Homo sapiens: one gene and its partners. The protein of the gene in region 1 purifies or fractionates together with the protein of each later gene. This does not show direct contact. Each region holds a gene or a part of one and is shown in the gene's direction. Other genes may lie near its edges.

Region 1 (3,996 bases):
GTTAAATTTTAGGAACTGTAGCAAGCTGTGGCGAGGAGTGAGGGGACTTTTTGGGATAAAATTGTCTTATGAGCTCAATTGCATCCCCTAAAAATTCATTGGTTTAAGCCCTAACCCCCAATATCCCAGAATGTGACTGTAATGGAGACACGGCCTTTAAAGAGGTGGCTTAGGTAAAATGAGATAGTTAGAGTGGACCCTAATCCAATACAGCTAGTGTCCTTATCAGAAGAGGAAATTTGGACACAGAGAGAGATGCCAGGGATGCATGCCATGTAAGAGGCAGCAAGAGCATGGCCATCTGCAAACCAAAGAGAGAGGGCTCAGAGGAAAACAAGCCTTCCCCAATGGCTTGACCTCACATTTCTAGTCTCCAGAACTGTGAGCAAATAAATTTCTTTAGTCAAAGCCACCCAGTTGCAGTGTTTTGTTGTGGTGGCAGAGCAAACAGATAAAGTAGTAAGTCCCTCCAGCACCCTAGGAGGTTCTGCTTGTTGCCATTCCCCAAAGGCCATCCTAGCCATGATGAGGGCAGGTGCGGTTGTTTGGGAGGAGACCACTGTGGAACAAAGAGAAACAAGGCTTGCTTGATGCAGCAGGGAGTAGACTACAGATTCAAGAAGGGCTCTAGAAAGGTCCAGCAATTCAGCTTGTCAGGGAACCCCGAGCTGTATGTAGTTCTTGCTCTCCTGTGCCCTGCAGGATGGCTTGACCCATTTCTGTTCTCATGTCAGACCCTAAGGGCAGGGTCATCTGGGCCACAGACCCAGGCCCGGTGGGCCTGGTGGGCTGACCTGTGGGCTATTCTTATGCCTTCAGGAAACCCACCTTTACCACCTGGCTGTTGTGACTGGCATCGCTGAGGCTGTTTCTTTGTGTATAAAATCGAATAAGGACACATCACGTGCTAGCAATCCACCAGCATAGGGCGAAGGCTCAGCAAAGAGAAGTTCTCTCCTCCTCTGCTCTTTTAGGTCAGCAGCAAATGCAGATCGGGGTGGGGACAAGGTAAACACATAACTTGGGTGGAGATGTGATTGATTAATAACTCATAAATCATCTGAAACCATACTTTCCTTTTGATAGTCAACCCTCTGTAAACACTCAATGTGTTCTCACCTTGTTATCATTCCCAATGATGTCGAATGCGTGGTTGCCCTCTCCAGTATAAAAGTTTGATGCAGCTTTGCCTGGATGTACCTGTCTATAAGGAGTCCTGCTTATCACAATGGTAGGTAACTGGTTTTATATATAAAGGCTAGAAAAGCAAAAGAGAATATGTATTCCTATTTTAATATGCGTGTGCTTCTACCACATAGCATTGAATGGTAAATGTGACCTAGTTAGGAACCTTATGTTATTACCTGCAATTCAATGTGCAGAGTATGAGAGTCTGAGAGCTTGCGAAAATTGTAATGAGTTTAGCACTAGTTCTGTTCTCTAAGATCTAAGTTGTTTTTCCTTCCAGTAATTCTGGGGTTCAATTAGATTTCATAAGTGTCTCTAATTCTTGGGTCCTATGTGAGTAATTTGAAATTAAAAATAATTTCAGAGCTACATGACTGCATCGTTTTTGAGATGAGGGAACTGAGCCTGGGGAGGGGAAGAAGCTGCCACTGGGGTCTCACCGCAAGCCTGTGAATGAGCTGAGATAGGAACCCAGGCATTCCTCTCTCCCTGCCAGGGGCTCCCAAACTTGGCTGTGCAGTGGAAACTCCGGGGGAATTTTGAAGAACACTGACACCCATCTTCCACCCCGACACTCTGATTTAATTGGGCTGCAGTGAGAACAGAGCATCAATTTAAAAAGCTGCCCAGGTCATTTTAATACTCAAGTTTGGGAACCATTTCCCTAGGCCCTTTTCACTGTATCATGTGTTAAGGAAAAATCTTGGGTTTGGGGCTGTGTTTGTTGGTTTATTTGTTTGTTTTTGAGACAGGATCTCACTCTGTTGCCCAGGCTGGAGTGCAGTGGTGCAGTCATGATTCACTGCAGCCTGGACCTTCCTGGGCTCAGGTGATCCTCCCATCTCAGCTTCCCAAGTAGCTGGGACCACAGGCGAGTGCCACCATGCCCGACTAATTTTTGTATTTGTTTTAGAGATAGGATTTTGCTATGCTGCCCAGGCTGGTCTTGAACTCCTGGGCTCATGCAATCTGCCCACCTCAGCCTCCCAAAGTGGTGGGATTACTGGTGTGAACCACTGTGCCTGGCCAAGAAAGAATTTTGCTTCAAAATTTATAAAAACCCATGCAGGCTTTTCTTGTGTCTTAAACTTGATCTTTCTTAAAACATTCTTTACTAACGCTGGGGACTGAACTGGGCTGCTCTGGGGGCTGCAAGGGAGATGAGGCAAGAAACAGCCAGCCAAGTGGGAGGAGCCAAGGGAGGTGGGAGAGGGTCCTCAGGAGGGGACCCCGGGCCTCCTCTGGGCCACTCGGCAAGACAAACTTGCTCTCAGAAACTGTCCGGAGGCAGAACTGGGGATGGTAAAACAACAGTGGGGTGGGAGGTCCTCCCCATCTCCACTAGACAGGCTCCTCCAGCCTATACTCTATGCAGCCTCACAGTGAACTTAGCAAGCTGCAGAGCTGGCAATACCTCTGCCTGCCTAAGATCCTGAGGACCCCCAACTCTTTATTTATTTATTTATTTATTTTATTATTGTTATTTGTAGTAGAGATGAGTTTTTACTATGTTGCCCAGGCTGGTCTCTAACTCTTGGGCCCAAGTGATCCTCCCACCTTGGCTTCCCAAAGTGCTGGGATTACAGGTGTGAGAAATTATGCCTGGCCAGACCCCCAACTCTTGATCATGGGATAACCCTTCCAGGAGCAGTAATTTACCTAAAGAGATACAACTTTTTTTTTTTTTTTTTTTTTTTTTTTTCTGAGACGGAGTCTCTCTGTCGCCCAGGCTGGAGTGCAGTGGCGCAATCTCGGCTCACTGCAAGCTCCACCTCCCGGGTTCACGCCATTCTCCTGCCTCAGCCTCCTGAGTAGCTGGGACTACAGGCGCCCGCCACCACGCCCAGCTAATTTTTTGTATTTTTAGTAGAGACGGGGTTTCACCATGTTAGCCAGGATGGTCTCGATCTCCTGACCTCATGATCCACCCGCCTCGGCCTCCCAAAGTGCTGGGATTACAGGCGTGAGCCACCGCGCCCAGCCAAGAGACACAACTTCTAAGGATACTGCCAGCCTGCTTCACCTCAAGGCTCGCTGTACCATCTAGAAAATCCTAGCCCATTCTGGCGTCGTGGTGTAATCTCCTGCACACATCAGGAGCTCAGGGTTACTAAATGCAGGAAAGGAAGACACAAAGGGAAGGAAGGCTGGTGGCAGAATAGAAGACAGGAATGAAAAAAGCTTTAGAGCCTCTCTACTCAGGGGTGGACCTCAGACCAGCAGCGTGGGCATCACCTGGGAGCTTCCGTGTAAGTCTAAAGACCTACTGAAGCAGAATCTGCAGGTTAATTAACAGGCTGTCTGGTTGGGCGCGGTGGCTCACGCCCATAATCCCAGCACTTTGGGAGGCCGAGGCGGGCGGATCATTTGAGGTCAGGTATTTGAGACCAGCCTGGCCAACATGATGAAACTACGTCTCTACTACAAATACAAAAATTAGCCAGGTGTGGTGGTGCACTCCTGTAATCCCAGCTACTCAGGAGGCTGAGGCAGGAGAATCACTTGAACCCGGGAGGCGGAGGTTGCAGTGAGCCAAGATTGCATCACTGAACTCTACTCTAGGCGATAGAACGAGATTCCGTCCCAAAAAGAAACAAACAAACAGACAAACAAAACAAAACAAAAAAAACTCCCAGGAATTTATATGCACATTAAAGCAGCACTGGGTTGGTCATTGTTCCTGGGTTCTCACCTGGGAGACTAGGTAAAGACACTGAGGCACTGGCTCCTAGATTGTGTTTCCTATGAGCTCCCTGGATAACTCTAATGGTCACCCAAATGGGAGAACCCCTCTTTTTACAGGGAAGG
Region 2 (3,500 bases), on another chromosome or scaffold:
TATATTTAGCGTGGTGAACATTGTTATTGTTAATAATTACTTTTCAGTTTTATTTTATTTGGCCCTAGCTTTAAAAATATTTATTCTGGAAAAATAATCTAAACATTATGAAAGTAAGAACTGTGTTATCAAATTGTGGTCATTCAAAGTTGGTTTTCTTCCCAAGAAGATTAAATGTAGACTTCAGATTTTAAGATACGTTTTTTACATATTACTTGAGGACTTTAAAAATGTTTACAGTATATATCTGCAAAAGACAAAACCTCTGTCTGAAATAATTAAGATAAATTACAGACCTTGTAATTGAAGTACGAATTGTATGTCTTACATGCCTTGATTATTCAGGTTTGATATGTTTGCATTTTGAAGGCAAAGAAAAGCTCTAGTAAAAGAAACAACAATTATTTTAATAAGTTTTCATGCCTGCCTTAATAGTCACTTTAAGTAAAAATAATTTTTTTCAAAAAATAATAAAATCTAATGTTCATTTTAAGCTTAACACATATTCAGGTTCACTGGGCAAAAGGGCAGAAGTTAATTCCCTGTAATTGTCCATAAGTAGAAAAATGGTTTGTCCCCTTCCAAGATATTTATAAATATATAGACTATATTTTTATCACCTCAAGTAAAACACAGAAATGTCTACTTTATTTTACTATTGGTCTTTCTCTATGTTAAATATTACAATACAAGGACTATAATTGTGGAATTCAAAATAAATTTAAAATCACTACTTTCAACTAATTTTAGAGGGAAATTAAAATTGGTAAACATTTGGTTGCATTCATAACAAAGCTTATAAGTTCATAGCCTATCTCTAAATATATAAAAAATACTCTGAAAGTATTTATTCTTTGATCTCCTTGATAGACTATGTGATTAGCTAATTCCTAGTAAGTAACTTGCAAAGATATTTTAATCTTTAAGAAAGCATCAATATAATTCAAATGTTTGGTAAAATGAATAGATAATTTAAATTATCATTTAAACTTTATGTTTTCAAGAATAACTTTTAGTCACCACAGGAAAGTATCTTGAGTTTAGTTGTTAACTTCCAAACCATTGAAGGAGTTTTGATGGCTTTTTATGCAGTCTCTATTTTGGTTATATTGTTGTTTTAAATATTTTCAGGGACACTAGAACTAAACAAACTTTCTCATTCTTTTTCAAGTCACTTCAGAGTGTTGTCTGAACTTTCATCTTGAATAAATTAACTTTTCCTAAAACTTATTAACCAGATGCTATATGCTCTGAAATTTGATTAGAGTTGTAAGTAGGTACTATTTTTTGACTTTTACTTCCTCTGGGAATGTCACTTCATCTCAGAACAATTTTCTATTCTACTAAGACTAAGTCAGATGTTTCAGAGTGGGAGGAGGATTTGTAATTCTGAATGAAAACTAATATATATGCAGGACTTCTTTAAATCACCCCAGCTGTTGGCCAAGAGCAAATATTTCATATTTGTGAGGAAAAGCTGAGAAAATTCCTTTTGTTTACAACTGCCAAATCCATCTGATGGAAGCACATTGTTATCTGACAGCCAATTCATTTCCTTGGACTCTGGAATTCAAAACCATTTCTTAGGAACATTGTGGATACACTTTTCAAATATTTATTTTTTAAAAATACATTAAATGGCAAGGCAGGTTTGCTAAGGAATGCATTCAAGTTATTGTGAAACAAACTATTTTAAATTTTGTTCATTGTATTGATTTAAAAAATAAAAACTACAAAAACCCCAAAACTACCCAGAGAGTTCCATAATCAAACTGCTATGGCCTGTGGTATATATCTTTATTTTAGTCAGTGTCATTAACACCAAAAAATTGCTTGCTTTTTCAAAAGCTGCAAGAGACAATGTGAGAGACAAGAAGAAATCAATAAATTAGCTTTTTATTATGTATTGTGTAAATTTATATGGTTTTTAAGAATTTAGTTGTGAAATTTAAAATTGGAACTCAATTATGAAAAAAGTATAAAATTAGGTTTATGTTGTAAATCCCATTTATATACTGAATAGTGATTTAATTTTTATTCCTTGTATGAAGAACAAAATAAAATAAAAACATTAATTTTATTCTTGTGTAATTTATGGTTTTAAGTTATTTTCATTTTAAAATGATAAAATAATTCTAAATTACATTTTGTGAATATTTCATAGTTATACATTTTTCTTTTTCTTTTATTTTATGTTGATGGACTTTTAACTTGATCTATAGAAAAATCTGAAAACAGAAGATAAAGATCTGTACCTTTTAAAAATTCAGCTTTTTAATCTGCAAGAAACAGTCATGTTGTTGATTTGAATTTAATTGTAGCATGGAATGGCAAAGTCATTATTTGCAAATCAAAACATTATAGCTATAAAAGATAGTTTTCCCTTTCAAAGAGTGGATGAAATACAACATTTTCAGATAAACTGTCAAGGAGTTAATAGTAAAATACCTCCTCCTTTCTTTCCTCCTCCTCTCCCTCACCTCCTTCTTTTTTTCTTCCATTTTCTTTTCTTTCTTCCTTACCTCTCTAACTAGCTCCTTCCCTCCCCTCTCCTCCATTCTCTTACAACATGAGATAACACATCATTGTCAGAATGTGGTTGTGCATCACTGTAAAAGGAGGAAGTTGTAATCACGTCTGCATACCACGAGCACACATTATTTTCTGTTTTGACAGTTTGTTTCTGCACTCTCAGACCTAACATGTGCAGAGTCACATTTCCTAGGATGCTCTGTATTGCTAGTGGTACCTGTTTATCTGGGATGAAAATGAAGCCTTCAGTATGTGCCTTATATAGACTGTATTAGCAGGTCTCCTGTTGTTTAATCAAAAAAATTTTCAAATGAAATGTACTCTACCTAGATGACCAGTTAATTCAATGGAAATTCGGATAAAAAAGTCACAAATAAGCTGCAGTAAGAATCAGGACACTTAGGAAGTATATTTCTTTTATATACCTCAAGGAAGATACCTGTGTATATCTGCAATAAATTCTCCATGCAAAATTATTAATTTGAGTTTTTTTTGGATGCTGCATAATGTCCTAGAGGGTTAAAAAAATAACACTGGGACCCAGCAATGCTGTGGGCTTGTGTAAAATTCTCTTGTTCACACACTGTTTATGGGATTAGATACTACAGTCATTCACTTCTATTTTATGGTCTTTTAGGGGGACCCAGATCATGTCAGGGTTCCACTAGTGAAAACAATCTTCTTTTGAAATTTCCTTGATAATACAAATGCAAAAGTATGAGAAAGTTTTTGAAATTTTTTAGGGTTGTTATAGGATGTTTTATTATTTACTCCAAGACTGAAAAGTGAAATGCATATATGCCTAGGTTATGTTGGTAAGAATCAGTAGCATACTGTGAAAAGTCTTGGATATTAGGCTTTGTGTGAACACCGCAACCATCTTGTAACCTTAAAATAAGAAAATTGTGGAAATAACAAAGGCAGGCATGTGGAGTGTTCATCTTTTCCCACCAATACTTGGTAAATGT
Region 3 (3,500 bases), on another chromosome or scaffold:
ACAATTCCTAGAAAATGAGTACACCTTTGTTCTCTTTTACGATTATTGTCAATTCTTGCTATTTATGGAAGTTATAGAATAACTTTATAGTTACTCTGTACAGTCACTGAAAACATTAGCAAATACTGACCCATTGCTCCTAGGGAAAATACAGGGTCAGGTTCCTTCAAGCCTCTGGTCACAACATTTTTGTCAACTGATCAGTGCATCACCTTGTTTTATGAGTGTTTCTTTTTAAAGACACCTTACTTAATATGGAGCTGATTCATTAACATTGAACTCATGACCAACAGCACTCTAACTCATGCCTCGAAGAAGCTTACCTAGCACACGTATGTTCTCTGTGAGGCATATCACAGCCTTCTTGCCCTTGGGAACACCAGAGAGCACTTCAGCATTATGCTCAGGGGCTGTTTTAAACAGCGAAACCCTCAACAAAGCGCACAAAAACACAAAAAACAGGGCACTTTAACTAGACCTCAAAAAGGACACTTGGTTACACAATGAGAGCCGAAAGCAGAAAGCGGAGCGTTGCCTTATTCCACCTCAGCTGGGAACATGCATGTTGGGTGACTGAAATTTTTCACTGCTCTGCAAATGTCCACAAATGACCGTGAAAGCCCTGAGAGTATTGATTTTGGGGACTACGAATAAATTTTAGCCAGTAGACAAATTTGCAAGCACAGAATCCATGAAAAATGAGGTTTGACTATGCTTTTGCTTTCCTCCTCTTTCTCTCCACTCACTAGTCACCATGACTTCCTCTCTCAGTTCCAGGAAACACTTCTACCCCCAGCTGCCAGAGCACCAACGGGCAGCCTCAGAGGGGAGCCTGTGGGAGATGGAGAGGTAGATCCCGTAGCCGGCGGGCGGCGACGTCCCGACCAGAGCGTGTGTGGCCCGATGGGGTCATCCCCTTTGTCATTGGGGGAAACTTCACTGGTGAGCGTGCTATTGTGGGTCCCAGAGTGTAACCAGCTTCCGGGCCTGGCCTTGTGGCAGCCCTGCCAGGCACGGAGGCGTGGGTGCCACCTGCAGCCCGAGTGCCCACACATTCCTTTCCAGGCAGTCTGCCCTCAGAATGGCTGTGACTCTTCAGTGGTGGGTAGGGGGTGGGACTGCCTGGACACCGTGGCAACCTGGCTTCCTTCCTCCTGGCAGGTAGCCAGAGGGCAGTCTTCCGGCAGGCCATGAGGCACTGGGAGAAGCACACCTGTGTCACCTTCCTGGAGCGCACTGACGAGGACAGCTATATTGTGTTCACCTATCGACCTTGCGGGTGAGCAGGAAGCCCTAGGCGCTGTACCTTCCGCCATTGCCCCAACCCAGGTTCTGCCCTGGGCCCTGCCACTGCCCCCAGCTGGGCACAGCCTTGGGTCCCTTTATCCCCTCCTGCTATGGGGCATCTACCCAGGAACTGCCCCCTGTGCGGCTGTGACCTCCAGCACACAGCCTGGGCACTCGGTGCTCAGGGCCCACCCCTCCCCTTCGCTCCCCTGCCGCCCCGCCCCCGGCAGCCTGGCCCCGCCCCTGAGTGGATGCACTCCCCCAGCTCGGGACCGCCCCCCTGAGCTGGCCCCGCCCTCCAGGTGCTGCTCCTACGTGGGTCGCCGCGGCGGGGGCCCCCAGGCCATCTCCATCGGCAAGAACTGTGACAAGTTCGGCATTGTGGTCCACGAGCTGGGCCACGTCGTCGGCTTCTGGCACGAACACACTCGGCCAGACCGGGACCGCCACGTTTCCATCGTTCGTGAGAACATCCAGCCAGGTAGGTACCTGCCCCTCGGTGCGGCCTTGGTGGGCGGCTCCCGCCCCAGCCCCCACCTCCAGGACCCCTGGGGGCAGTGGCAGCCGCTCCAGCCAGCCGTCATCGCCTGGGCCCGCAGCGCTGCCCACAGCCTGGGTTGAGCCAGCCCCTGCCCTTGAGGCATTTCCTCCTCCGTGTCAGATCAAGGACCCGCATCCATTGTGGAGCTCCTCTGGGAGGCTGGGCCAGGTCCTGGTCCTGGACAGCGGTAGCCCGGGCAGCCTCTAGGGTGGGGCATGGGCATAGTGGGCCGTCCTGGGGACTGCTCAGGCCTTTCTCCCCACCTTTGCCCACTATCTGCCCTCTGCCTGGTCTGCCCTCCGAGGGCTTTTCTCTCATTTTCTCGATGTCTCTGTCCCTCCCTTCCCGCCTCCTCCCTCTCTCCCAGGCGTTCTCCACTCTTCACTGCTCCTTCTCAGCTGTGGCTCTAGAAATGGTGCTTCCTTCCCATGTTCCCTTGAGTCCTCCATTCACCAGGCCCTCTGCTGGACAGGACTCTTCCTGAGACCCTCCCCATTCCCCAGGCTCCCCTTGGCTGCTCCCCGGACCCTCAGGTAGGGGGACTCTCTCAGATACAGGAAGGACTCCATTCCCTGCCCTGGAAAGTGAGCGTTGCATCCCAGGCAGACCCACCCCCTCCTCTCCCCCCACACCCTTTTCCTGATCTTGGCAGGGCAGGAGTATAACTTCCTGAAGATGGAGCCTCAGGAGGTGGAGTCCCTGGGGGAGACCTATGACTTCGACAGCATCATGCATTACGCTCGGAACACATTCTCCAGGTGGGAGACGGGATTGGGGCTGGGCCTCTGCTCGGGCAGCCCCACCCTGCCCTCTGTAGGCTATTCTCCTCCTGCCTCCCACTTCTGGGGCAGTGACCCAGGAAAAGAGTGGCCCTCTGGGGGGCTGTGGCCTCCAAGCAGAGGGTCCGTGGATGTTGCCTGCCCTCCTGTCCTCTTCCACGGGTGGGTCTGTGGCAGGGCCTTACCACCGTGTGCACCCAGGGCACCTGGCGGAGGAGGCTGAACCCAGCCACTCTGCAAGCCCAGCAGTGTGGGGTAGCCCCAAACTATCAGCCCAAAGGGTGCTGAGCTTTTATTTGTGGGCCATTTGTTTGTTTTTGTTTTTGTTTGAGACAGGATCTTGCTCTGTCACCTAGGCTGGAGTGCAGTGGCACAGTCATGGCTCACTGCAGCCTCAAACTCCTAGGCTCAAGGAATCGTCCCGTCTCAGCCTACTGAGTAGCTAGGATGACAGGCACACGCCACCGTGCCTTTTTTTTTAGAGATGGGGTCTCACTATATTGCCCAGGCTGGTCTCGAACTCCTGGGCTGAAGGGATCCTCCCACCTCGGCCTCCCAAAACGCTGAGATTACAGGCGCGAGCCACCAATGCCCAGCCATTCCTTTTTAATTAGTCTGCTTTTTTTGTAATTGGCCAGTTTGCACGAAGCCTGACCCCTGCCCTGGACTAGCCCCCATGCCCAGCTCCGAAGCACATCCTCCTTATCTGAGGCCCAGGTCCCCAGAAGCCACAACCAGAGCCCTCAAAGGTGGTGGCCCAGCCTCCCCTCCCCCAAGATTCTCCTTAGCAGTGTGGGAAATGGCACCTCCCTCCTCCTCAAACTCCTTCCTGGCCTGGCCATTCCCAGGCCTGGTGCTTTGCTCATCCTCTGTCTGTGTCCCAGACAGTGGCC
Region 4 (3,500 bases), on another chromosome or scaffold:
GCCCTGGTGCCCCCCACCCCCCAGTTGTGGGGCTGACGCTGCCCCCTTGCTCCACCCCGCCCGCAGACCCTGAACTGTGTGAACCCTGAGAATGAGAATGCACCTGAGGTGCCGGTGAAGGGGCTGGACTGTGACACGGTCACCCAGGCCAAGGAGAAGCTGCTGGACGCTGCCTACAAGGGCGTGCCCTACTCCCAGCGGCCCAAGGCCGCGGACATGGACCTGGGTGAGCGGGCGGGGCCACGGCTGCCCGGGGTGTGTGCTGGAGCAGAGGGGCAGGGCCATGGCCTAGTACTGAGCTTGGCGGGGAAGGCCAGGCCAGTCCTCCACACCAGGCTGGTCTGGAGGGCAGTGGAATGGCGAGTGGGCTGTCCAGTCCCAGGTTGGGTATAGAGGGTGGCTGCCCTGCTCTGGGCAGAGACTCTGGGAGGTGGTGGGTTCCAGTGCACTCTGGGAGGCAGTGGGCTCTTGGAGCCCTGAGGGGGATACTCAGGCTCATGAGAGGGGCAGGTGGAGCCATTGAGGGCCAGAGGGGATGGGACGGGTTTGGGGTGGGGCCCGGAGTCCTGCTGCAGATGTGACTGGAGAGGCTGGGTCCCCACAGAAGCCTCGGTGCCAGGCTGAGGAGTTGGGGCCCTAAGGCTTGCGGAAGGCAGGGCAGACCCCCTTAGGCTGGGGCTGCTGTGGCAGATTGGGAGGGCTGTGGCACATTGCAGGGGACTATGGCAGGTTAAGTGTGCTGCAGCAGGGGCGGAGGTATGTCCCTGCCCTGTGCTGGTGCTGAGAGCTGCAGGCAGGCCCCGTCCCACTACACTGCTGTGATGGAGGAGGGAAAGAGGGCCCCAGCGGCCCCACCCTCCAGCTCCCTCCTCCCCCAGAGTGGCGCCAGGGCCGCATGGCGCGCATCATCCTGCAGGACGAGGACGTCACCACCAAGATTGACAACGATTGGAAGAGGCTGAACACACTGGCTCACTACCAGGTGGCTCCCGGCCCTCCGACCCTAGCACAGGCCTCCCTCCCCTTGGGGCTTCCACAGCGCAGCCACCAATGTTTGCAGCATGTGGGCTGGACAGCAGCTGGATCTGTCAGGGAGAGGAGGGGAGGTGGTCACTTATGTGTGTGGACCGTCCCAGGACTCGAGCTGGGCTTGTGGGATTGCCTAGCATCCCTGGGCTGTCCTGATATAGAGTTCCAGACTGAGTGAGGTGGCTGCCTCCAGGCACAGCACTAGGGTGTCACCGGGGTCCCCAGCCGGGGAGTGGGAGCCTGGTGGTGCAGGGGCACCCTGGTGGGTCACAGGGTCCCTGGCCCTCTGCCCACAGGTGACAGACGGGTCCTCGGTGGCACTGGTGCCCAAGCAGACGTCCGCCTACAACATCTCCAACTCCTCCACCTTCACCAAGTCCCTCAGCAGATACGGTGAGGGGCCAGGCAGCGGGCGAGAGGGCAGCGCATGGGTCCCTGGCCTGGGCAGGACGTCCCCCGGGCTCCCACGCTGCAGCAGCCGGACGGGAGGACCCAGGGGCAGGTGTCAAGCCTGTCACTCGCACTCTTGGCCTTACCCTCCAGCTCTGGAGGCTGCGCCTCCTCGCGACTGTGTGTCCGTACACAATTATGCCACCTCTGTGGTGTCATCGGCTGCCCCAAAATCCCACATGGGTGGGGGTGCCATCCCCAGCTTTCAGATGGGGAAACAGGCTCGGGCGGGGGGTGCGGGGTGCCAGCCAACGCGGGCGCTGACAGCCTGGTGCTGCAGAGAGCATGCTGCGCACGGCCAGCAGCCCCGACAGCCTGCGCTCGCGCACGCCCATGATCACGCCCGACCTGGAGAGCGGCACCAAGCTGTGGCACCTGGTGAAGAACCACGACCACCTGGACCAGCGTGAGGGTGACCGCGGCAGCAAGATGGTCTCGGAGATCTACTTGACACGGCTACTGGCCACCAAGGTGGGCCTGGCTGGCAGATGGGGGCAGGGGACGCTGGGCCAACTGAGCTCAGAGAAAGTGCCAAGCCCAGAGCAAGGGCCTCACCCCCATGCTCCCATGGCCACTTGCCTAGTCACCCAGGAGGTGTAGGCAGCCAGGCAGCGCCCTGGGGCTCAGTGTCCCTGCCTGCCCCCCGCAGGGCACACTGCAGAAGTTTGTGGACGACCTGTTTGAGACCATCTTCAGCACGGCACACCGGGGCTCAGCCCTGCCGCTGGCCATCAAGTACATGTTCGACTTCCTGGATGAGCAGGCCGACAAGCACCAGATCCACGATGCTGACGTGCGCCACACCTGGAAGAGCAACTGGTAATGCAGGGCAGGGGGAGGAGGGGCATCCCCCAGGGCCAGGCCAGATGTGTTCCCAGGGCCCTCGCCCTGTTCTGATCCGGAGCCCCCACTTGGGGCTCCCTGGCGTGGGGACACAACCCAGCAGGGGCATGGCGGGCCAGTCCTGTGCTAACTGGCCTTCCCTATCTGCCTGTGCCCCTTGACCCACGGCTCGCCCTCTGCTCCAGCCGCTGAGCCCCTCCCACTGCTGCAGGAACTGTGTGCAGGTGTGAGTGGCTCTGGGTGTGCACAGCTGTGCGGACATGAGTGTGGGCTGCAGCGTGAGAAACAGGGCACAGTGGACCAGCCCCAAGCCGGCTGGTTGCAGTGATGAGGGCAACAGGGACTGCAGGTACTCCTGGTAGTCTTTAGTGCGAGGAATTTACAGCCTCCCCATTGCAGTGTGGGGCCAGGCCAGAGCCTGCTTACTGAGGCGCAGAGGCCGAGCCACTTGCCACGGTCTCACGGAGCAGCTGGAGTACGGAGCAGGGCCTGCCCAGCCTGCACCGTGCACAGCTACACCAATGTGAGCTGGGGCTCTATGAGGCTGGGTTTTGTTATGAAGAGGCACCCAGCCTCTGAGTGGCCTCCCTCCAGAGTATCTGCCTCCCTGGCCAGCCAGTCCCTTGCTTTCCTCCGGCCTGGCCCACCCCTGGGACAGTGACCTGCTTCTTCCCTGGTCATGGACTGCCCAACTCAGCAATGTTGGCTTCCTCTCTGCCACACAGGCAGGCCAGCCCTTGGCCTCACTCCTTACTCAGGACCCCCAAGCTCTGGTCTGTGGCCCCCTGCTCCGGTTGGCACACTGTAGCCACACCCTAGCCCCTGGAGCGGGTCCCTGCTGTGTGTGTGGCCCCCACCCCAGCAGACAACCCCACCATTGCCTGCTACAGGGGAGCCCCTCTCTGTGCACCAGGCCCCTCTACCTGCATGGCCGAGGGCTTCTGGGGTAGGACTGCTCCCCCACACCTGGGGTCAGGTGGATGCCCTTGCCTGTATGGCTGGACCCTGCTTCACCAGGAAGTGCCCCTCCTCACCGTGCATCCTGCTGGGGTCTCCCCCCAGTTCTGTGCACACTCTCCACTGTCTTAGCTCCCCTCTCTCCTGGACTGTCCCTGCCACTTCTGCTGGCTCCCGGGCCAGCAGCCACCCCCGACTTGGTCTTGTCCATCCCATGTGTT
Region 5 (4,014 bases), on another chromosome or scaffold:
CAACACCATGGGAGGCTGAGATGGGTGGATCACGAGGTCAGGAGTTTGAGACCAGCCTGACCAACATGGTGAAACTCTGTCTCTACTAAAAAAAAAAAAAATAGAAAAATTAGCCGGGCGTGGTGGCACACGGCACCTGTAATCCCAGCTACTGAGGAGGCTGAGGCAGGAGAATCACTTGAACCCAGAAGGCAGAGGTTGCAATGAGCCGAGATTGCGCCACTGCACTCCAGCCTGGGTGACAGAGTGAGACTCTGTCTCAAAAAAAAAAAATTTTTTTTTTTTTTTTGTAGAGATGGATCTTGCTTTGTTTCTCTGGTTGGCCTTGAACTCCTGGCTTCAAGTGATCCTCCTACCTTGGCCTCGGAAAGTGTTGGGATTACAGGCGTGAGCCACCATGACTGACCTGTCGTTTAATCTTGAGGTACATAAACCTGGCTCCTAAAGGCTAAATATTTTGTTGGAGAAGGGGCATTGGATTTTGCATGAGGATGATTCTGACCTGGGAGGGCAGGTCAGCAGGCATCTCTGTTGCACAGATAGAGTGCACAGGTCTGGAGAACAAGGAGTGGGGGGTTATTGGAATTCCACATTGTTTGCTGCACGTTGGATTTTGAAATGCTAGGGAACTTTGGGAGACTCATATTTCTGGGCTAGAGGATCTGTGGACCACAAGATCTTTTTATGATGACAGTAGCAATGTATCTGTGGAGCTGGATTCTGGGTTGGGAGTGCAAGGAAAAGAATGTACTAAATGCCAAGACATCTATTTCAGGAGCATGAGGAATAAAAGTTCTAGTTTCTGGTCTCAGAGTGGTGCAGGGATCAGGGAGTCTCACAATCTCCTGAGTGCTGGTGTCTTAGGGCACACTGGGTCTTGGAGTGCAAAGGATCTAGGCACGTGAGGCTTTGTATGAAGAATCGGGGATCGTACCCACCCCCTGTTTCTGTTTCATCCTGGGCGTGTCTCCTCTGCCTTTGTCCCCTAGATGAAGTCTCCATGAGCTACAGGGCCTGGTGCATCCAGGGTGATCTAGTAATTGCAGAACAGCAAGTGCTAGCTCTCCCTCCCCTTCCACAGCTCTGGGTGTGGGAGGGGGTTGTCCAGCCTCCAGCAGCATGGGGAGGGCCTTGGTCAGCCTCTGGGTGCCAGCAGGGCAGGGGCGGAGTCCTGGGGAATGAAGGTTTTATAGGGCTCCTGGGGGAGGCTCCCCAGCCCCAAGCTTACCACCTGCACCCGGAGAGCTGTGTCACCATGTGGGTCCCGGTTGTCTTCCTCACCCTGTCCGTGACGTGGATTGGTGAGAGGGGCCATGGTTGGGGGGATGCAGGAGAGGGAGCCAGCCCTGACTGTCAAGCTGAGGCTCTTTCCCCCCCAACCCAGCACCCCAGCCCAGACAGGGAGCTGGGCTCTTTTCTGTCTCTCCCAGCCCCACTCCAAGCCCATACCCCCAGCCCCTCCATATTGCAACAGTCCTCACTCCCACACCAGGTCCCCGCTCCCTCCCACTTACCCCAGAACTTTCTCCCCATTGCCCAGCCAGCTCCCTGCTCCCAGCTGCTTTACTAAAGGGGAAGTTCCTGGGCATCTCCGTGTTTCTCTTTGTGGGGCTCAAAACCTCCAAGGACCTCTCTCAATGCCATTGGTTCCTTGGACCGTATCACTGGTCCACCTCCTGAGCCCCTCAATCCTATCACAGTCTACTGACTTTTCCCATTCAGCTGTGAGTGCCCAACCCTATCCCAGAGACCTTGATGCTTGGCCTCCCAATCTTGCCCTAGGATACCCAGATGCCAACCAGACACCTCCTTCTTCCTAGCCAGGCTATCTGGCCTGAGACAACAAATGGGTCCCTCAGTCTGGCAATGGGACTCTGAGAACTCCTCATTCCCTGACTCTTAGCCCCAGACTCTTCATTCAGTGGCCCACATTTTCCTTAGGAAAAACATGAGCATCCCCAGCCACAACTGCCAGCTCTCTGATTCCCCAAATCTGCATCCTTTTCAAAACCTAAAAACAAAAAGAAAAACAAATAAAACAAAACCAACTCAGACCAGAACTGTTTTCTCAACCTGGGACTTCCTAAACTTTCCAAAACCTTCCTCTTCCAGCAACTGAACCTCGCCATAAGGCACTTATCCCTGGTTCCTAGCACCGCTTATCCCCTCAGAATCCACAACTTGTACCAAGTTTCCCTTCTCCCAGTCCAAGACCCCAAATCACCACAAAGGACCCAATCCCCAGACTCAAGATATGGTCTGGGCGCTGTCTTGTGTCTCCTACCCTGATCCCTGGGTTCAACTCTGCTCCCAGAGCATGAAGCCTCTCCACCAGCACCAGCCACCAACCTGCAAACCTAGGGAAGATTGACAGAATTCCCAGCCTTTCCCAGCTCCCCCTGCCCATGTCCCAGGACTCCCAGCCTTGGTTCTCTGCCCCCGTGTCTTTTCAAACCCACATCCTAAATCCATCTCCTATCCGAGTCCCCCAGTTCCTCCTGTCAACCCTGATTCCCCTGATCTAGCACCCCCTCTGCAGGTGCTGCACCCCTCATCCTGTCTCGGATTGTGGGAGGCTGGGAGTGCGAGAAGCATTCCCAACCCTGGCAGGTGCTTGTGGCCTCTCGTGGCAGGGCAGTCTGCGGCGGTGTTCTGGTGCACCCCCAGTGGGTCCTCACAGCTGCCCACTGCATCAGGAAGTGAGTAGGGGCCTGGGGTCTGGGGAGCAGGTGTCTGTGTCCCAGAGGAATAACAGCTGGGCATTTTCCCCAGGATAACCTCTAAGGCCAGCCTTGGGACTGGGGGAGAGAGGGAAAGTTCTGGTTCAGGTCACATGGGGAGGCAGGGTTGGGGCTGGACCACCCTCCCCATGGCTGCCTGGGTCTCCATCTGTGTTCCTCTATGTCTCTTTGTGTCGCTTTCATTATGTCTCTTGGTAACTGGCTTCGGTTGTGTCTCTCCGTGTGACTATTTTGTTCTCTCTCTCCCTCTCTTCTCTGTCTTCAGTCTCCATATCTCCCCCTCTCTCTGTCCTTCTCTGGTCCCTCTCTAGCCAGTGTGTCTCACCCTGTATCTCTCTGCCAGGCTCTGTCTCTCGGTCTCTGTCTCACCTGTGCCTTCTCCCTACTGAGCACACGCATGGGATGGGCCTGGGGGGACCCTGAGAAAAGGAAGGGCTTTGGCTGGGCGCGGTGGCTCACACCTGTAATCCCAGCACTTTGGGAGGCCAAGGCAGGTAGATCACCTGAGGTCAGGAGTTCGAGACCAGCCTGGCCAACTGGTGAAACCCCATCTCTACTAAAAATACAAAAAATTAGCCAGGCGTGGTGGCGCATGCCTGTAGTCCCAGCTACTCAGGAGGCTGAGGGAGGAGAATTGCTTGAACCTGGGAGGTGGAGGTTGCAGTGAGCCGAGACCGTGCCACTGCACTCCAGCCTGGGTGACAGAGTGAGACTCCGCCTCAAAAAAAAAAAAAAAAAAAAAGAAAAGAAAAGAAAAGAAAAGGAAGTGTTTTATCCCTGATGTGTGTGGGTATGAGGGTATGAGAGGGCCCCTCTCACTCCATTCCTTCTCCAGGACATCCCTCCACTCTTGGGAGACACAGAGAAGGGCTGGTTCCAGCTGGAGCTGGGAGGGGCAATTGAGGGAGGAGGAAGGAGAAGGGGGAAGGAAAACAGGGTATGGGGGAAAGGACCCTGGGGAGCGAAGTGGAGGATACAACCTTGGGCCTGCAGGCCAGGCTACCTACCCACTTGGAAACCCACGCCAAAGCCGCATCTACAGCTGAGCCACTCTGAGGCCTCCCCTCCCCAGCGGTCCCCACTCAGCTCCAAAGTCTCTCTCCCTTTTCTCTCCCACACTCTATCATCCCCCGGATTCCTCTCTACTTGGTTCTCATTCTTCCTTTGACTTCCTGCTTCCCTTTCTCATTCATCTGTTTCTCACTTTCTGCCTGGTTTTGTTCTTCTCTCTCTCTTTCTCTGGCCCATGTCTGTTTCTCTATGTTTCTGTCTT
Region 6 (3,500 bases), on another chromosome or scaffold:
TTCTCCTTGCCCACTGCCTACACAGAGCTGATTTATCAAGACAGGGGAATTGCAATAGAGAAAGAGTTTAATTCACAAGGAACTGGTTGTGCGGATAAAACACAAGACCAGATGAGCCAGTTTATCAACCTAGGTACTGCCAACGGGGTGCTGCCAACCATCGAGGACAGGGTCTATAAAATATCTCAAGCACTGAACTTAGGTTTTATAATAGTGATGCCTAAGCCATAATTTCTAATCTTGTGGCTTATTTGTTAGTTTTGCAAAGGCAGTCCAGTCCTCAGGCAAGAAAGGGGCTTATTTGGGGAAAGGGCTGTTACCATCTTTGTTTCTTTTTACTTTTTTTTTTTTTTTTGACACAGGGACTCACTTTGTTATGCAGGCAGGAGTGAAGTGGCACAGTCTTGGCTCACCGTAGCTTTGAATTCCTCAGCCCCCCAAGTAACTGGGACTATAGGCATGTGCCACACATCAGGCTACTTTCTGTATTTTTAGTAGAGATGGGGTTTCACCAGTTCCAGGCTGGTCTGGAACTCCTGGGCTCAAGCAGTCTGCCCACCTCAGCCTCCCAAAGTGCTGGGATTACAAGCATGAATCACCACACCCGGCCGCGTCTGTTTCAAAGTCAGACTGTAAACCAAGTTCCTCCCAAAATTAGTTCGGCCTATGCCCAGGAATGGACAAGGACAGCTTGGAGATTAGAAGCCACATGGAGTCAGGTCAGATCTATTTCACTGTTATAATTTTCTCAGCTATAATTTTTGCAAAGTCAGCTTCAAAATCCCTCAGTAAATGGCAACTATTATAATTATTATCAGCAGCACCATAGGGAGAAGGACTGGATCAGTACATACCAAAAATCACAATAATCATATTGGGGTTGCGGATAATTTTTTTTCCGAAGTGTTGCAGTTGGAAATCCATGATGGATTTTGACCGCATGTATCTGAGCCTCTTCCCCTAGTCTCGCCCCGCTTCCGTACCCTGACTTCAGGGTTCTTTCCAGTTGCTCTGCCTGAGCTATACCATTCGTTCCCACACAGCACAGAATGTCTTCCTTGTCATGGAGGCTCTGTGCACAGTAGCGTGTTGTGAATGAGGCTGGTTGATATTATATTACACTTCTCTGAATAAAATGCCACCTTGATTTGCTCATTCTCAATCGGCAGGAGTCTTATTTCACCTCTGTAGGTCTTACTAAGTGTGTTTAGTTTTCAAAAGAAACCAGTGTTTCCCTAGTACTTAACATGGGTTTATTACATTTTTTTGACAAAAATTCAAAATTACATATATTTTGTTCTTCATTAGCAAGTCACACATTTTAAAATGGCACACTCCCTTCCTCTTCGTGTTGTTATTTGTTTATTTTAAGGACTGTTTCTGGGTAGATAAGCTCTGGGTTATTTTAAAATACATTTTACAATGGAAATGGCCTGGACTTGAACTGAAAAGGAAACATTATCTGTGTTATTTCAGACACATCAGTGATCAGTTTAGAAGATAGGATGATTTCACTAAGCTTATAATTCATCTTAAAGCTCACCTAAATAAAAGTAAGTGACTAAAATGATCTTTTTCTTCCAGGAGAGGTAGGATTAATTAATTGTATAATGTGTGGAATATTTCAGCGCTTATCTGATTCTTCCATCTTAAATCTTTGAGAGTTTTTAAAAAATTATGTGTCCATTACTGTTTATATCACATAGACATATTTTCATTTGTCTACTTAAAAATGTATTTTTAACAAAGTTTAAATAGCTGCTAGCTGTAATGTATAACTGCTGAGTTATAAGATGCTTTCCAGAATTATAAAGTCATAAACCATTGTGTGGAAACAATGAACCTTTCAGAACCAAAGAAAAGGTCAACACTATGAAAGGACTATCAAAATAATGCAAGTGTCCTATCTCTCCTTACCTGGCAGAAGCAGCATAAAGACATCAGACACTCCGTGTTTGTTCAGAGGTGGAAAAAGGCAGAAGAACAAGTTTCTTCCTAGGCAGGGGATTGTTTACTTGGCTTATTTAAATCACAGTTACTAGTCCTCACTCTTAAGTGACTGGAAAAATGGGACACGTCTTCTCCATAGTTAGCAATAGCATGTAAAAAGCAATTGTGCTTAATTCCTCATAATGTGTTTTTTTTTTAAAAAAAAAAAAAAAGGCATCTTCCCTTTGTGGCTGGCAGCAGCATTCTCATTCAGAAAAGCCGCATCTCTAAGAGCCCCAGACCCCTCACATAAATCCCCTTGTTCCTGGATGATCAAGGTCCGGCTGCTTTTTCTCGCTTTCCAATGAGATGCAGACAGACTGGGAAAGAAGGGAGTTTATTTCTGCAACTGGTGACAGGAAGATGGTGGGAGTGACTCACCAGACCAACTCAAAGTTACAAGTTTTTCTTCAGTGTTTATTTACATTCAATTCAACCTCTATGCCTGTGTGAGAGTGTGCACCTACAAGCAGGAGTGTTTCATTCAGTCTAATCTTTAGGGTCTGGGGTCTGGAAAGTCTCTAGAGCCTTGGAAAATTTTCTTTAATCTTAAGTGGCCTTGATACAAGGTATATGTGTAAGAATGCCTTCGATCAGATGTTAGGGTCTGAGAAAGTCCAGGCGAGGTCTTAATGTATTTGTTTTCACATTCCAGGCCTTGTACTCAGGCACCAGTTTCTCCAGCTTGAATGTTTAACTTATGCATTCATCAGAATTACAGGAAAGGGTTAGTGGAAACTGGCTGCTCTGGTTGCTGATGACAACCTGTTGCCACACCCTGGTGCTGGGCATTGAGGGAACCACTAGAAGAGAAGAGAATCCTGGAGGGTTAGGTCCTAAACATCTGAAAGGCAATGGTAACTTGCTGAAGGGTTTTTCCTACTCGCAGAATGACCCCGTCAGATTAGCTTTCCAGAAGAGTCATTTCAGCTGCAATGTATCAAGAGTGGTCACCTTTTGTTCCGTAATGAGACACTGAGGTGGGATTGCAGTAAGCCCCGAAACTCAAGCACTGGGATGTGTGGCTTGGCCCTTTAGAAGTTTGTGTAGGTAGCAACATTGGCCCCTGTGGAGGAAAGTGATGGGCTCGAAAGCAGGAGGAGAGGCGGTGCCTTGCAGCACTGTGCAGGGTGAGCCAAAGAGGGGCAAGCCCAGCCAGCACTCGAACCAGAGCTTTGGCACTGAAGGAATGGGGAAGTGGATGCCAAAGAGGGCGTGGTACACAAACCTGTAGAGTTTTTCCAGTTCTGTTGCTGTTTCTTTAAAATATGTGTGCATTTGGGTGAATTTACTAAGAAGCTTACATCAATTAAAATTTTGGTAACTATGCTCTTAGAAATGTTTTCTTTGTACAGCTTATCCTTTCGGTCATCCCTGTAGCAGCTGTCAGTAAAGTATTAATATTGAAATAAACATAATTAACCTTATATTATTTAGTACCATTCTAGGTTAAAGGTAAATATAGGCTGGGTGCAGTGGCTCACACTTGTAATTCCAGCACTTTGGGAGGC
Region 7 (3,500 bases), on another chromosome or scaffold:
TCTCCTGCCTCAGCCTCCCAAGTAGCTGGGACTACAGGTGCCCACCACCACGCCCGGCTAATTTTTTGTATTTTTAGTAGAGATTGGGTTTCACCGTGTTAACCAGGATGGTCTCGATCTCCTGACCTTGTGATCCGCCCGCCTCGGCCTCCCAAAGTGCTGGGATTACAGGCGTGAGCCACCGCACCCAGCCAGGGATTTCTATTGTTTTTGAGAGGGCTACCCTGTCCTATCAACAGAGAATGAGAAATAGAGCATAACCGAGCCAAGAACCCAAAATAAGGAATCCAGCTTTTCTCCTCTTGTTGACTCTGACCACAGAGGTTCCATGTAAAATGGTGAGGCAAAGAATTGAGACACTGCTTTAGCCTTATGTGTAGGGAGGAAAATGTATAGCTCTGTATCCCAGCATTCCCTGTATTCTGGACTCATTTCCTGCAGCAGTTTACTAGAAGGAGAGCACAGCTGATAGATGCACTAACTCATACATAAGAGCCTTCATGTCCAAGGTCTGTGGCATAGCCAGCCTGGGTCCTCTGCCAGGAGAGACAGTCCTTGTTTGGAGTGCCTGATGTTCATCCCTGGTCAATATCCAGTGCTTGGTTCTGGCCAGTGCTCAGTACCCCCAGTCTCAGGGTGGTGGTGCTCTGTGGAACCCCATTTAGGCTCCATGTCACCTCTTCGAGGTTTTCCAGATTAAGTCCACGAGTCTGGTGGAAAATGCCAGGCTGGCACTTAGCAGTCACTTCCCACCTCTCTCTCCTATCATAAATTTAGCAAACGTCTTTGAGCTAGCTTTCAGTAGGAAAACTACAGAATGCCCACTCTTTGTACTTTCAAAGGAAAATAGGCACTAGAACCTCATGAGACAGGCTGGCAAGCCAGTTCTGTTCCTGAACTTCTATTGTCTCAACTCTGTAGAACCCTGCTTTCCTCCTGAGTGCCGAGCACATAGTTCTTTTCCCCGCAAGGAAAGCAGGGTTGGAGTAAGTGGCCCAATGGGTCCAAGGACAGATACAGATGAGCGTTTTAAGCTGCACTGGGCTTGAGAAGGGAAGCCCTGCAGAAGTTCCTGTGAGCCCTGGAAAGGAATTCCACTGTTGGTGTAGCCTCTTCATCCTGTCCCTGGTGCTCCACTTCCCCAAACCAGGCTGCATGGGAGCCAGCTCCACTATCACCTATCTGGCTGGCTGGAGCACAGCTCAGTGTTCCTTAGCAGTGTCCACATAGGTTCCAGAGCTCTGGCCTTTCTATTCACTGAGGTGGTCCAACCACCCTCCACTGAAGAAGGTGGTCTCTCCCTATGCCACAGTGCTGTCCCCCATCTCATTCCTATGCAGGGCTTCCATGGTGAGTCATACACACCATGACTCAGCTGTTGAGCTTGATCGAGATCCTAGGTTAGAGGCCCACTGTCACCTATTTATAATTAATTATAGGCAGATTCAGGCTTCCTGATGTTCCAGGTTTACTGTAGTACTTAGAAGAGTTTCATAATACTAACCTGGTATGCTTCCCCTCCACCTTGCTGCACTCTCACACCCCTTTGCTGCTAGAGAGAGCAGCTTTGAGACTGTGGGGCAGTGTGAGCAGAGGAATTTGCAGCCTGATTGGACCTTAAAGAGGACTAGGTTATAGCCTGACTCTGTCATTGCCTTGCTGCCTGAGGATTAAAGAGGGAAGTAGTTCATGATTTCTTTATCTGGAAAATTGGGTTAGTAGCTGTTCCTGCTACCCATCCTATTCCCCGTTAGTAGGTTGAATAACCCTAACTCACTATGACACTCGCCAACTACTGCGCAGCCCTGGTTATGCATCAGAATTGCTGGGGAAGCTTTCAAAAAATACAGGTGCCTAAGCCCCACCCCAGATCTATTGGGGCAGAATCAGGGTGAGACTGGAGCCTGTGCTTTTTTTCCTTCACAAAGGAAGGAGAAAGGTTAATTTTAAAAACATAAAATTCACACACCATAAAACCATACTTTTAAAGTATACAATTCAATTTTTTTATTCATAAGGTTGTACAGCCAACATCACTGTTTCATTCCAGAACATTTTCAACATCTCAAAAAGAAACTCTGCACCCATTAGCAGTCATTCCCTGTAGCTTCCCTCATAGGCAATGGCAACTGCTGATCTGCTGAATAGAATCATATAATATGTGAGAAATGTTTAGTTTTTAAAGTTACACAGATAATTCCAATGTGCAGCCAGAATACAGAACCATTATTCATCAGATGGCATTATTAAGGACTCCGCCTGCAATGAGATTTTGTGGATTATTGAGTAAGAGCCAAGGGACCCTTCCCCCTAGGGTTTTTGGGGCCTGGATGGCTGTGTATTTGAGGGGGAGACCGAAGCCAGTAGAAGTAATCAGATGATCCACTGCTTAGTGCAGCAGCAGCTTCTCCCATTGGTGTGGGTGGGTAGGCCACATGCCTGGAGAAACACACCCCCTCAGAGCTCTCATGGCTGTCATGGGGGATGCAGAGGGACAGGCATAGCTCTTGCCCTCAAGGTGTGTATGGTCTGTCAGGAAGATGAGAAAGTCCATCTGCATTCCTTTTCCCCACCATGACTCGGGACACGCTCTTGTGGTGCTTTTGTTTGTCCTCTGTGATTGAGAAACCTTGTCCTTGAGGAGGGGGGTTTTTGGACTCTGGATCTGGGGTTCATTGGGCCTTTTTCCTGCAGGTGGCGGGAAATGTTTTTTAAAGTGAAGAAAACAGTTGGGGAAGCTCCAGATGGACCAGCCAGTGCCTACTTGGCCGACACCACCCATACCTCCTTGTACATGGTGAGGCCCCAAGGATGGGTGTAGACCAGCGCAGGGGGTAGAAACGATTTTTAGAAACGAAAGCTTTTTATTACCTTTCACAGGTGGGTTCTACCCTGAGCCCTGTTCCATGGCTCCCTTCAGAGGAATCCACTCTCTGGAGCAGTTTGTCTCCTCCAGGCCTGGAGGCCTTGGTGTCTGAACTCTGTGCTGTCCTGAAGCCTCGCCTCCAGCCAGGGTGAGTGAGGTCATCACCCCAGGGTGTGAGAAAAGCCTGCTTAGAACATCCCTGGAGGAGCAGCAGCCAGATGGGTAGTTCCTAATGAACTGGCCAGAGTGGGATTGGGAGGACCTTCCTCAAACCAGTATGTCCTACACAAGGCCACCAGGCCACTCCTTTCTGTAAGCCAATTCCCAGGCTCCTTTCCTGGGATAACCTCTGTCCTCCAGGGCTGGCTCTGGAGGAAGAATCTCCAGCAGGGGCATCTGTTTCTGAGACTGCCCTTCCCCTTGGGGAGCTCACTGGCCATCCTGCACTTTACTGCCCTGGCCCTGAAGGACACAACTCCTCATACCAGTGGCCCAGGTGTGGACGCAGATCCCCACCTCAGTGCCACCACAATGTCTCTCAATACCATTCAGACCAGTCATAACGTTGAGGTTTTATTGGCAGCACAGCAATGCCAAAGGGAATTAATTAGTCTTTGGCTGTTGGATATGCTGG

The links.
Region 2: the proteins of MSMB (region 1) and SLIT2 purify together in Homo sapiens (affinity purification with mass spectrometry; one large-scale study listed by BioGRID and IntAct). This does not show direct contact.
Region 3: the proteins of MSMB (region 1) and BMP1 purify together in Homo sapiens (affinity purification with mass spectrometry; one large-scale study listed by BioGRID and IntAct). This does not show direct contact.
Region 4: the proteins of MSMB (region 1) and PLXNA1 purify together in Homo sapiens (affinity purification with mass spectrometry; one large-scale study listed by BioGRID and IntAct). This does not show direct contact.
Region 5: the proteins of MSMB (region 1) and KLK3 purify together in Homo sapiens (affinity purification with mass spectrometry, with the first as the bait; one large-scale study listed by BioGRID). This does not show direct contact.
Region 6: the proteins of MSMB (region 1) and LRP11 purify together in Homo sapiens (affinity purification with mass spectrometry; one large-scale study listed by BioGRID and IntAct). This does not show direct contact.
Region 7: the proteins of MSMB (region 1) and PEX6 purify together in Homo sapiens (affinity purification with mass spectrometry; one large-scale study listed by BioGRID and IntAct). This does not show direct contact.

What each region holds. Positions count from the first base shown.
Region 1 is NC_000010.11:46,043,470-46,047,465, reverse strand, and holds the start of MSMB (beta-microseminoprotein isoform a precursor), read left to right. Parts: upstream 1-1,196; 5' UTR 1,197-1,228; coding exon 1,229-1,231; intron 1,232-3,996.
Region 2 is NC_000004.12:20,258,405-20,261,904, forward strand, and holds part of SLIT2 (slit homolog 2 protein isoform 1 precursor), read left to right. Parts: intron 1-3,500. UniProt on the Homo sapiens protein: Thought to act as molecular guidance cue in cellular migration, and function appears to be mediated by interaction with roundabout homolog receptors.
Region 3 is NC_000008.11:22,175,372-22,178,871, forward strand, and holds part of BMP1 (bone morphogenetic protein 1 isoform 3 precursor), read left to right. Parts: intron 1-771; coding exon 772-942; intron 943-1,161; coding exon 1,162-1,279; intron 1,280-1,552; exon of another isoform or gene 1,553-1,589; coding exon 1,590-1,768; intron 1,769-2,480; coding exon 2,481-2,586; intron 2,587-3,500. UniProt on the Homo sapiens protein: Metalloprotease that plays key roles in regulating the formation of the extracellular matrix (ECM) via processing of various precursor proteins into mature functional enzymes or structural proteins.
Region 4 is NC_000003.12:127,028,115-127,031,614, forward strand, and holds part of PLXNA1 (plexin-A1 precursor), read left to right. Parts: intron 1-66; coding exon 67-226; intron 227-878; coding exon 879-982; intron 983-1,325; coding exon 1,326-1,422; intron 1,423-1,759; coding exon 1,760-1,950; intron 1,951-2,128; coding exon 2,129-2,298; intron 2,299-3,500. UniProt on the Homo sapiens protein: Coreceptor for SEMA3A, SEMA3C, SEMA3F and SEMA6D. Necessary for signaling by class 3 semaphorins and subsequent remodeling of the cytoskeleton. Plays a role in axon guidance, invasive growth and cell migration.
Region 5 is NC_000019.10:50,853,701-50,857,714, forward strand, and holds the start of KLK3 (prostate-specific antigen isoform 1 preproprotein), read left to right. Parts: upstream 1-1,214; 5' UTR 1,215-1,255; coding exon 1,256-1,301; intron 1,302-2,539; coding exon 2,540-2,699; intron 2,700-4,014. UniProt on the Homo sapiens protein: Hydrolyzes semenogelin-1 thus leading to the liquefaction of the seminal coagulum.
Region 6 is NC_000006.12:149,854,360-149,857,859, reverse strand, and holds part of LRP11 (low-density lipoprotein receptor-related protein 11 isoform 1 precursor), read left to right. Parts: intron 1-3,500.
Region 7 is NC_000006.12:42,969,182-42,972,681, reverse strand, and holds part of PEX6 (peroxisome biogenesis factor 6), read left to right. Parts: intron 1-2,694; coding exon 2,695-2,797; intron 2,798-2,880; coding exon 2,881-3,014; intron 3,015-3,500. UniProt on the Homo sapiens protein: Component of the PEX1-PEX6 AAA ATPase complex, a protein dislocase complex that mediates the ATP-dependent extraction of the PEX5 receptor from peroxisomal membranes, an essential step for PEX5 recycling.